2 separate regions of the Homo sapiens genome follow, and region 2 is linked to region 1. Evidence: fine-mapped expression QTL. A gene starts in region 1. The other region holds a variant in brackets. All regions are shown on one strand. Distances are between the middles of the regions. Region 1 holds the start of MOB3B (MOB kinase activator 3B). Region 2 overlaps MOB3B (MOB kinase activator 3B).

Region 1 (5,380 bases):
ATCAATAATCCACACTAAGAATGAACACAATGTGTAAGCATCTGACTTGTGCAGGGAAACAGGGCCGCCTGCAACCCAACAAGCGCACCCACAGGGGAACTCGGGACCATCCTAAGCCACTTGTTCTCTGGGACGTGGAAGCAGGAACTGTGCTCTAGCCGTATCTGTGTTGCGTCGTCTGAGTCCTCTTTTTCTACAATGAAGAAAGGGGACTTGGGATTTAAACTTGGAGCGGTACTCAAAGCCAGAACTCCACGTTCATTCCGGAGTGAACCACCACACTACTATTTCCAGGCAACGTCATAAGGCTTCCTCGTTATTTGCATCTTCGTTCTCTTTTTGGCGACTAGCCTGCCCTCCCGCCCTTGGAAACTTGTGGACCCCAGAATCTCAGCTTTCCGCCTACCAAAGGTGCCCCGATCCCCTCCCACTGCCCTAGCAGCGGCCCAGCCCCAACGCCTTTGGCTAGAGATTGAAATCCTCTGGAACCAACCACTGGACGCTCTGGATTGGGGCGGAACGCGCTTCCACTGTCTCGAAAGCAGCACCTTCTCGGATTTGAGCCTTTGCGGCGCGCCTGGGCTGAGATCTGAGAAATGCGCCCTGGGCCACAGGCAGCAGCGGAGGCGGGGAAGGAACAACTTTCCCTCCGCCCTCTAACCACAAGGGCGGGGTGGGGCGGCCTCGCTGGGGTCGGGCTCCTCCACTTTCCCAGCTGGGATCCCCTGCCGGAGCTGGCGTGGGGGCCGGGGAGGGGGACCAGAGGGGCTTCCTTCTCTCCCCAAGCCCCGCCAGATGTTGGAAAGGCAAACAATAGGGGAAACGCGGAGAAACAAAAGGCCATTCGCCACGATCTCAGTCGGCTGCGTAGAGAGATCTCTGTGGGGAGGGTTAGGGGAGAGGGTCAGGAAAGAGCGCGAGGGGGGGGATCCCGAGAGATTTAGAGTCTCTGGTACTTGCCAGGCACCAGGGGTCGGCGCTTTACCCTCCCAGCAGGGGTCTGAAGGTGGGAAGGGGCAATCAAAGAAAACTTGAAGGGTTTTCACCTTCTTCCCCAGTTCAGGGAAAGGGAGGGGCTGGGATTCCAGATGTTTGACAGTTGTTGGCCCCAAAGTTAAGCGCGATTTGTACGGCCTTTACACGCTCCCCACCTCCGTGAGGCATCGTCAGCCCCGGGGGCGACCTGGCTGACGGTGCGGACTTCCCCTACGCTGCCCCAAGCCGAGACTCCTCCCTCAGGATCAGGACGCCCAAGCGTTGTCCCCCAGCCCAGGCGCACTTTTGTAAAAGTTTGTCTTCCCGCCACCCACAGCCCAACACGCACCCTGCAGGCGTCCGCGGCTGGGGATGGGCTCGGAGTCTTGCACCCCGAAAGAAGGACGATCTTATTGATTTATATCTTTTCAAATCAAGGACAAATCAAGATCCCGGGGTGGAAAGTGGGCGACCCTTGTTCCTGCCGGGAAGTGCACACGAGGAGCCGGCCAGAAACCCAGGCGCCGGCAGGGGTCTGAAGAGGACTCCAGCCCCGGAAGCCCGTGGCCGGCGGGCAGAAGACCGGTCCGCCGCCTCCCGCACCTTCTTGCACCCGCGCCCAGGTGCGCCCCAAACCTCGCCGCCCGCCCGGGCGAGATCGGGAGCGAGCAGCCACCGGGCTGCGCCGCCTCCCCTAGCTTGGAGCGGGTTCTTACTCACCGTGGGGTTTTACCTCCAGCCCAGGGCCCGGTCGGCTCCCTTCGCCGGGTCAGCTGCAGCCAGCGCGAAAGAAAATGGTGAGCTCGGGGCAGGTGGGGCGTCGCTTGCCAATCCACGCAAGGGACTCTGCCGCCGGTGCGCGAGGTCCCGGCGAGCCAACCGGCGGACGGGCGAGCGCCTGGCTCCAGCTGCAGCCGCCGTCGCTCCGGAGCAGCCCCCTCATGCACCCAGCGCGCCGCGCAGCCGGCCGGGGCTCGACTGTCTCGCGGGGACGCCGAGCGGGGACCCCTGGCGGCCGCCTGCGGTATGGCAGCACCGTGGAGAGAAAAGTCGTCTTTGGGATCATCTTCCCTCCGGAAAGAGATGGGACATGACCAGTCTAAGGGGGCTTCCAGCCTTGCAGAAAAGACACTGGGCCAGGGCAGTGAAGAAGGTGTCAGATCAGAAAGGATGATCTCTGGGTCCACAACGGCCACTTCCAAGGCACCTAGAGAGGGGGAAACAGTTTGCCTTCCCCAGGATTTTCTGATTGTTGAAAAATACCATGAACTGCCTGACACAGAGCGGAGCATAAATCATTGGAAAATACTCAGATTCTAGTGGATTTACTAGAACACACTGGGAGTCATGGATGAACCTGGATTTTAAAGCTCAACCCACAGCCCGCCACTCTCTACTTGTGTGGTCTTGGTCTATCTACAACCTTAAAGCCTCAGTATTCTCCTCCGTAAATTGGCGGGGAGCAATATCACCCTTGCAGGGTGATGGTTACGGGTAAACTACATTTGAAACGTTTTTATAGTTTATAGTAACAGAAATCAAATATGAGCTTCCTGCCTTCTGGAGAAAAAGAATTGGATCTTTCACATTTTTCTATTACCCATATGATCACATCTTAATGCATATTGATTGAACTGTACCAAATGACGAAGTACTGCATTTTACCATTCTTACTACACACTTCAAAGAGGTGTGGAAATATATTAAGTAGAAATTAGGATATATAGAGAAAACATCCCTCCTCCAAAAGAGGTTTCTGCAACTAACTACGAAGTGAGAACTTCTAAAATCACTTACATCTTTTGCAATATCATCTCAGATATTGTAAGAAACATTTAATAAATAGTCATGACTTAATGATATCAACCCTGGATTAAATGACTCTAATTCTGTGTCACTTTTGTGTAATGTAAAGATACCGATTGTGAATATAAGACTCAAATATGGGAAAACTGCCAGATACAAAAATACAGCCGCTAAGCAATATTTCTGTTCATCACCGAGGAATCTCATTTCCAAAGTGCCCCAGTTTTTAAGAGGAAGAACACCAGAGTCAGACAGACCCATAGCAGCTGAGTCTAACCTTTCTGAAGCTCTGTTACCTCATCTTATAAAATGAGGATAATATAGGTAGCTGTCATTCAATGAAGGAATGCATACAACATGCTTAGCATAACACCTGTCACATGGTAAGTGCTCCAGGGTCACCACCTATCATTGTTTCCAGCATACAGTTATCACCCCACCGACATGTAGCCCCTCCCTCATGAGCTCAAGAGCCCCCAGCACGTGTTCTACTCACACACGCACAAGCTTCAGTGTCCCTTAAGATGTTATCTCCTGGAAAGTAGGAACAGAAAGAGAATATTTTCAGGTAGTTTGGAACAGAATGAATAACATTCACATTCCTTGCCCAAGTCAGTACAGATTAATTTCCATCATTTCCAACTCATACTTTATACATTTCCCATAAGAGGAAAATCATGCTGGTTTTCAGTAGCATATGAAAAAAAAAAAATTCCAAGAGGATTCTTTTGCCAAGCCACTTCATTACAGCTTCCCCTTAGAGGATACCAAAGAAGCACAGGGATATTGGAAAGGTGTCACCATAGCAACATTGTAATAGACAGATGACAATAGAGTAAAAGCGAAGAAAGCACATTTGCATAGTCATTGACAAACTTGGACCTACAGTCATATTGCTCTGGGCAGCAGTGCTCAGAGTCCAAGGGCTACTCAAAGTAAATTTGGTAAGAGGCTATTTCTATTCATTTTGGCTGAGTCTGACTACCCAGTTCATTGTGCTCATGTGTGTGCTAATTGTAATTGTTACAGGCAGTTCACTAACAAACAGCAGACATCCTCAAGAGTCCCTTTCATCCTAAGCAATGTGAGTTCACAAATCTAAATGTGTACCTAATAAATCTTCAATAGTAAAGCGTACTTCCTCCTTACCTGCTTCTGTTTTGTTTTCAAAACCTTAAATAGTCACAGGTATAGAGAAATTGTCTCAATGCTTATGGGAGCTTCTGTGATAACTTATGTTAATTAACTCTGGGTACTGAAAAGAAACAAACGTGCATGGCTTCCCCTAAGCACTGAGGTAATGGCAATTCAAATAACAGCAAATTTATATATGTGATATACACAGATTTATATATATATAAATATATCACATATAGATATATAAGAAGACATCATATATATATACACACACATTTTAGAGATCATATATATCTTTTAAGCAATTTCAAACCATACAAGAATCCATATATGATCTTAAGGCATAATTTCTGCCAGCATACTTCTCAACATTTATAATGACACTAAATGTCTATAGTCGTTTCCTCTGAAATGCACATTACATCAATCCCTTTTTGTGAAAGTGGAACTAAGGCATAAAAAGGTCAGAGTTCAGGAGCTGGGAAGAACATATGACAGTGTTCAAAGTTGTTTCAGTGACAGCTGAACAAGATAGTGTCATGTGGAATCATAATGGACAATTATCTGCTTTCTGGTCTATAGGAATAGAGTGAGTGTTCTTTCCCAAGTTTAAAAAAAAATTATTGAAAAGAGACTGTACTCTTTCTTCCTGCTCTTAGAATCTGTTTTGTTTATAGTGACCCAATGCTCCTTCATATCTATCAGATGGTATTTTTTTCTTATTTAAAAATACCCATGTGGTTGAGGCTGCAGTGAGCTATGATTGCACCACTGCACTCTAACCTGGGCAATGAGACCCTGTCTCAAAAAAAAAAAAAAAAAATAGTTTGTATCCTTAATAAGCGACCCTTCTTCTCAAGAGATGAGCCTGATGTTTCTGTCTGGCTTAACATTAGCCAGGTGTGGTACACTTGTGATCTGCCTCAGTATTCTGAGTAATGGAGAGGAGTTCTCTCACTGTGAAACAGGTCAACTTAGATACGATCCAAAAAGGGTTAGTTGCCAGGAGAACCAAAGTCTAAGGTAGTCATATCTACAAGCCCATAGCCTGGACCCCCAAATTAATCCTACAGTGAGACTTTAGCACCTTTCACAAGTGGAGAAATCAGACCACTGTGTGCTCAATGGGTTTGGAATGTTGTGCTTTCAAAGTAATTAATACAGAAAGGCATAGAAAGATAGAGAAGAGACTAGTGACTCATGGATGCTTCCAACGTGATATAACGCCCCTTTCTCTTCTAAATAGTAAAATAATGAAGATCTCAAAGAGACTTTCTCTCTTTGAGAAACACAGCTTTACTGCTTTTGTGATCAATGCCCACTGCCCTCACCAACAAATCAGTCATTAATTCCCAACTGCCTTGCATTGCAAATATAGAAAAAAAGGTTTTTGGATCTCCTTAGCTCTCTTTGAATGTCTATAGGAAAGAAATGAAGGAAGTAAACTTTTCTACTGCCAGAC
Region 2 (5,380 bases), 47 kb before region 1:
CTGGCCCCAGCTAATTTTTGTATTTTTAGTAGAGACAGGGTTTCACCATGTTGGCCAGGATGGTCTTGATCTCTTGATCTGCCTGCCTGGGCCTTCCAAAGTGCTGGGATTACAGGCGTGAGCCACCGTGCCTAGGCAGAATTGTATAACTTCTAAAGTAGTAGAAGAAAGGAAAGGGGGAAAAAGAATACTCAAATGAGACATATACAGACAAAATATGAAAAAAAGAAGGAATTTTAAGGATGTAAGAATATAAGAAAGAATTAAGAGAACAGAAAATGATAAATATATAAGTAAATCAATACAAGCACTGACTCTATAAAAGAATAAAAGAAACGATGCCTTGTGGAGTTTGAAAAATTATATAGACTTAAAATACTCAAAAGACTAGTGTAAGAATTGCGGGGAGGGATAAATAAGAAGGGTGTTATTCAAAGGAAGGTAAAACTATTGATCACTTTAGAATTTAGTAAGTTAAAGACGCATGCTATAATTACTAGGCTAATCTCTGAAAGAATAAAACAGTATGCCTTTCAGAGTGGTGCAGAAGAAAAAACAGAGTGAGACAATGAACTCGCTCATCCATAAAAAGACAAAAAAGGCGAGAAGAAACATAGAAACTGTGCAACAAACAGCACAAAAGACTCCAGCAGATATGGACTAAAATATATCGGTACAGTTAATTATAACAAATGTAAATCAACTAAATGCTCCAGCTAAAAGATGATGGCAAACTGAAATGCTTACTGGGGCAGAGTAGGTCACATAACTGAGTAAACAGCCAGGTGTAGGAAAGCAACAACCCAAATAACCACAACTGATGTCTCCTCAGGGTCAGGGAGACAATAGAGTGTGGTGGCGCCTGGGGTAAACTGGTAAGCGTGTACCTGTCTAAGGAAGGTAGTTTTTTTTTTTTTGTTTTTTTTGTTTTTTTTTTTTTTTGAGACGGAGTCTAGCTCTGTCGCCCAGGCTGGAGTGCAGGAGTACAGTGGCGTGATCTCGGCTCACTGCAAGCTCCGCCTCCCAGGTTTATGCCACTCTCCTGCCTCAGCCTCCCAAGTAGCTGGGACTACAGGCGCCCGCCACCATGCCCAGCTAATTTTTTGTATTTTTAGTAGAGATGGGGTTTCACTGTGTTAGCCAGGATGGTCTCGATCTCCTGACCTCATGATCTGCCCGCCTCGGCCTCCCAAAGTGCAAGGATTACAGGCGTGAGCCACCGCGCCCAGCCTAAGGAAGGTAGTTCTTACAGATCGTTGCCATGTGGGAATACAGTCCAATGTCACATATGTTAACTTTCAAAAACCTGGGAACTCGGAGTTTTATGGGAAATCAGAATTTTAAACATCAGCCATGAATTTTTTTTTAAAAAGCAAACACTGAAAAAAGGAAATAAAATGCTATTGATCCAGTGGAGGGAAGAAAAGAGATAAGATGAAACAAATGAACGAAAAGCACGGTAAATAAAATGCAAAAACAAAAAAACATAAAGCAAAAGGGTGGAATAAAAAAACAACTCTTTCAAACCACTGAAACATGAATGGAAGCGAAGGCTTATGCTAAAACGCCACTGTGATCCCCACCCTGTAATTTCCGCCCTGTTCAACCTTATCATTTGGCTGAAGAGACCTAACATTAAAGGACGGGAAAAACATTAAATAATCCAAACATAAAGCACATGGAGCCCCACTGGCCACTCAAAACTCATAATAATGTCTGGATGGTCTGGATGTTTGTTCCACCAGGTCTGCTTACACCAAGTCTCCTTTGGGGGCTTACTGGATACCTGGGCTTATCTAGCTATTAAGAAAAACGGCAATGTTAAAAGGAATGCTCTGTGCCTAAAAGAATGGAGAGGAGGAAGAAGAGAAAGGAAAAGAAAAATCCACAACATTCACCTTAAGTTACTCTTTGAGCCAGTTCCTGGAATGTCAGTTCTTCCCCATAGACCTTACTATGAGGTAAGGTCTCAAATGTTCAGTGTGGCTTCCAAGGCTTTTCAGACCTGGCTCAGTTGCATCTCAACCTCTGCCTCTACACCATTGCCCGTGCTGGTGGCCTGCCCAGATGTCTTTATCTCCCCATCTGTACTTCCCACCAAACCCTTTCCAAGTGAAGCATTCTCTAAAAGTTGCTTGAGGTTCCTGACAAAATCCCTGTATAAGGAATGCACCACATGGCCGTTTTTAAGTTTGGTTGTACTCTGCAAAAATTTGTGTAATGAGACAAAGAAAATTGTATTCATCAGAAGGCACATGGGGAAAATGGGTTGGCCTGATAAGGCTGCTTCTGGAGAGAAATGAAGCCAGGATAAGGACTGGACTCTTTTCCTAGAGTATCTTGCCTTGAACAGGCCTCCTGCTAACCTGTCTTATCCACTGGAAAACATAGCTACAGCGCTTGCAGTTTAATATCTTTAAGAGGTGCACATACATATTTGAGGGCTTAAAAGAGATAATTGTTTCCAAAATACAAAGAGATAAACATGACAATTACCAAATGTTTAAGTAAATGTCTACAAATATACGGTACTTTTTTTTTTTTTTTTTTTTTTTTTGAGACGGAGTCTTGCTCTGTCGCCCAGGCTGGAGTGTAGTGGCGCCATCTTGGCTCACTGCAAGCTCCGCCTCCCGGGTTCACGCCATTCTCCCGCCTCAGCCTCCCGAGTAGCTGGGACTACAGGCGCCCGCTGCCACACCTGGCTAATTTTTTGTATTTTTAATAGAAACGGGGTTTCACCGTGTTAGCCAGAATGATCTTGATCTCCTGACTTTGTGATCCGCCCGCCTCGGCCTCCCAAAGTGCTGGGATTACAGGCGTGAGCCACCGCGCCCGGCCAATATATGGTACTTCTTTCATTGTTAAATCTAACAAATTTCAATAACATTTTGTTTCAAAATATTTTAAAAATATTTTCTTGTGCATGAAAACAATTAGTAAGTTAAGCTGACTTTCTTTTTAAGAATTCTTGACTGCATAGCTCCTGAGAAAACAGAGCTAATCATAAATTGAATGACA[T/G]ACTTACAGTCAAATGATTTCAAAGGCCCAATTATAAAGGTGCTTTTCATCGCTTGCTGCACAGATTATATTTAATGTGAGGTGTGGGTGCACGTTGTTATGTTTGGTATGCTCGTGGGCAGAAGAGGAACTAAGGCCTCAGAAAATCTTAAAAGACCTGGTCCCATGTACAGCAGGAGGGTGCAAAGAGAGCTGGTATTAATAGGATGTGAAGCGACGTAGGGGGAAATGGCAGAGGGTGTGTCACAGCTGAGTGGTCCATTTGCTGCTGCTCGCCCTTCATGAATGAAATCTTCAAAAAAGCTACAGACTCTGGAAAATGCTGCTTTCCACTGGATTTCTTGTAGGGGATAAGGGTTTGAGTCCAGGTGACAGAGCCACTAAGGAGTGCCAGGGCAGGGTGAGGGCCCATAACGAGCTTATGATGCCAAGCATTGGGGTTCAGGCCAAGTTCTTCCTGCATCTTTGAGGGGCAGGGATGCCCCAAGTGAGAATTGTTACCTGCATTTCATAATATATGCTCTTCTCAAAATGCAGGTCCTATCACAGTTGTCTGGAGCTGAGGGTGAGTTGAACATAGAAGTGATCAGGAGTCTTTCTAAGGGCTCCCATTCAGAGGATCCCATTAACTCAGAGAAAAACGGGAAGAGATAATAAACAGCCATCACAGAAGACACTGATCTAACAAGGTCTCCCAGCATTTCCACAGCAGCCCCCTGTCTGCCATGTAGGGGGTTGAGAAGGTGGGCTGTTTGCTTTCAGTTATAATGGGTCTATGCTAAAAACAAAACAAAAAACTCAGGCGGGAGTAAGAAGCCATGGCAAGTGGACATTTCTCCCTGTGCAAAACTGATGAGTGGGAGGCAGTAAGAAGAGAGCAAACTGAAGTGCATTATTTTTCATTTATTTTTACTTTAAATAAAAAGCATAAAGAATTTGAAAATATTTTGTTAGCCTTCAACCTTCGAGTCACTTTAACCTATCCACATTAAAGGGCCACCATAAAGGCTTCATGAATAGCAGTCCCAGGATAATTCCCTTCTGTTTGCTTGTTCCTGTGCATTTCATGTCTGCCCACCTCCTGAGCCTTGCACCTGCCCTGTGGGTTTGGTGCTTGCACAAATCAACCCCCCGACCCCCGGCCTCCTCTACCCTGCCCTGAGAACTCAGCGTTCCATGCATCCTCAGGCTTTTTCTGCAGGCTGTCAAACCCAGGCATGAGCTCACCAGGGTACCAGCTAGTAAACTACATCCACACAGTCAGGTTGAGGTATCCACTTTAGAAGGGGACTCTGGGACATGGAGTACAGTGACCATTATACCTCAGTTAATGGAAACTTGACTCCCAGCCTTTAACCCTGACAACACATGAACCACCCCGGAAAATTGGCCTTGCCAGTATTTTTAAACAGACCACGGATCCAAGTTCGAGACAAGTGTTTTGCGTGGCCAGATGGACAGTTTCAGCTGGATGTCTCAAGGGCATCCAGTCCATATATTGATAATATATCAATAACAACAAGGATCATAGCAAATACTTCTATATATCACTTATTCTACAATATTAACTCATTTAATCCTCGAAACAACCCATGAGGTAAGTACTGTTATTATTCCTATCTTAACAGATAAAGAAGCTGAGAAAGGTTAAGTAACTTACCCAACAACAACCTGGCAAGGTAGGGACTGTGGAGCTCATTTTACACAGGAAGGAAATGGGTTCACTGAGGTTAGGTGACTTGCTTGCAGAACCAGAACTGAAACCCACCTCTGCTGGCTCTAAAGCCTATTTCCTTTCTAGGACTCAAGGCCTCTCCAACACCACTATTTCTGTTAAGAGCTACATCTGTCTCCCAATCACAAAGCCCCAAATGTCAGCATTGCCTTGGGCAAATCTCACTGATTCTGTCTCTGGAATGTCTCCAATATTAGCCCCTTTCTTTGCACTCCAATGGCTCCTGCTTTACATTTCACTTTCATATCGACTTTTGTGTGGACCATCTCAAACTGATTTTACATCCTACATTCTCTTCCCTCTCTACCCTCATGGAAAATTACTCTTCTTTAAAACACAGCTCTACAAAATGTCAACAGCAGAATTACCATGATATCAATTTTTCCCCCTTGTTCTCTTCTGTGTTTATTGAGTTAAAGGCATTGAGATTATATTCCTTTTGTAATAGGAAAAAAATGGCAGAAACAAAACACTATCTAATGATGTTAAGTCCTGTATGTATAAAACTCACCAACACTATTGCTAACCACATAAGTGCAAACTCACTGAGCTGAACTATTCAAGACTTTTTACAAAGAGAGTCAAAAATCTATAATTTGTTCAATCAATATTTCTTGAGCACTTGGT

Evidence for each region. PIP is the estimated chance that this variant, and not a neighbour inherited with it, causes the effect. A credible set is the group of variants that fine-mapping cannot tell apart.
Region 2: its variant is the best candidate, but not a certain one, in a credible set for the expression of MOB3B in whole blood (TOPMed, PIP 0.62).

Annotation. Positions count from the first base shown.
Region 1 is chr9:27,527,860-27,533,239 of GRCh38, forward strand. It overlaps MOB3B (MOB kinase activator 3B), which reads right to left and starts at 1,955. Exons shown (of 4, transcript NM_024761.5): 1 at 1,696-1,955. It overlaps LOC124902107 (dapper homolog 3-like), which reads left to right and starts at 597. Exons shown (of 2, transcript XM_047424279.1): 1 at 597-867; 2 at 1,161-2,841. The coding sequence starts at 597. The coding sequence ends at 2,149. RefSeq lists silencers at 683-732, 1,703-2,002.
Region 2 is chr9:27,480,594-27,485,973 of GRCh38, forward strand. The region is part of intron 1 of MOB3B (MOB kinase activator 3B); the gene reads right to left. Among named protein-coding and RNA genes, the nearest start is that of IFNK, 41 kb to the right of the region's middle. RefSeq lists a silencer at 4,657-4,786. The variant T/G (reference allele first, on the strand shown) is at 3,019.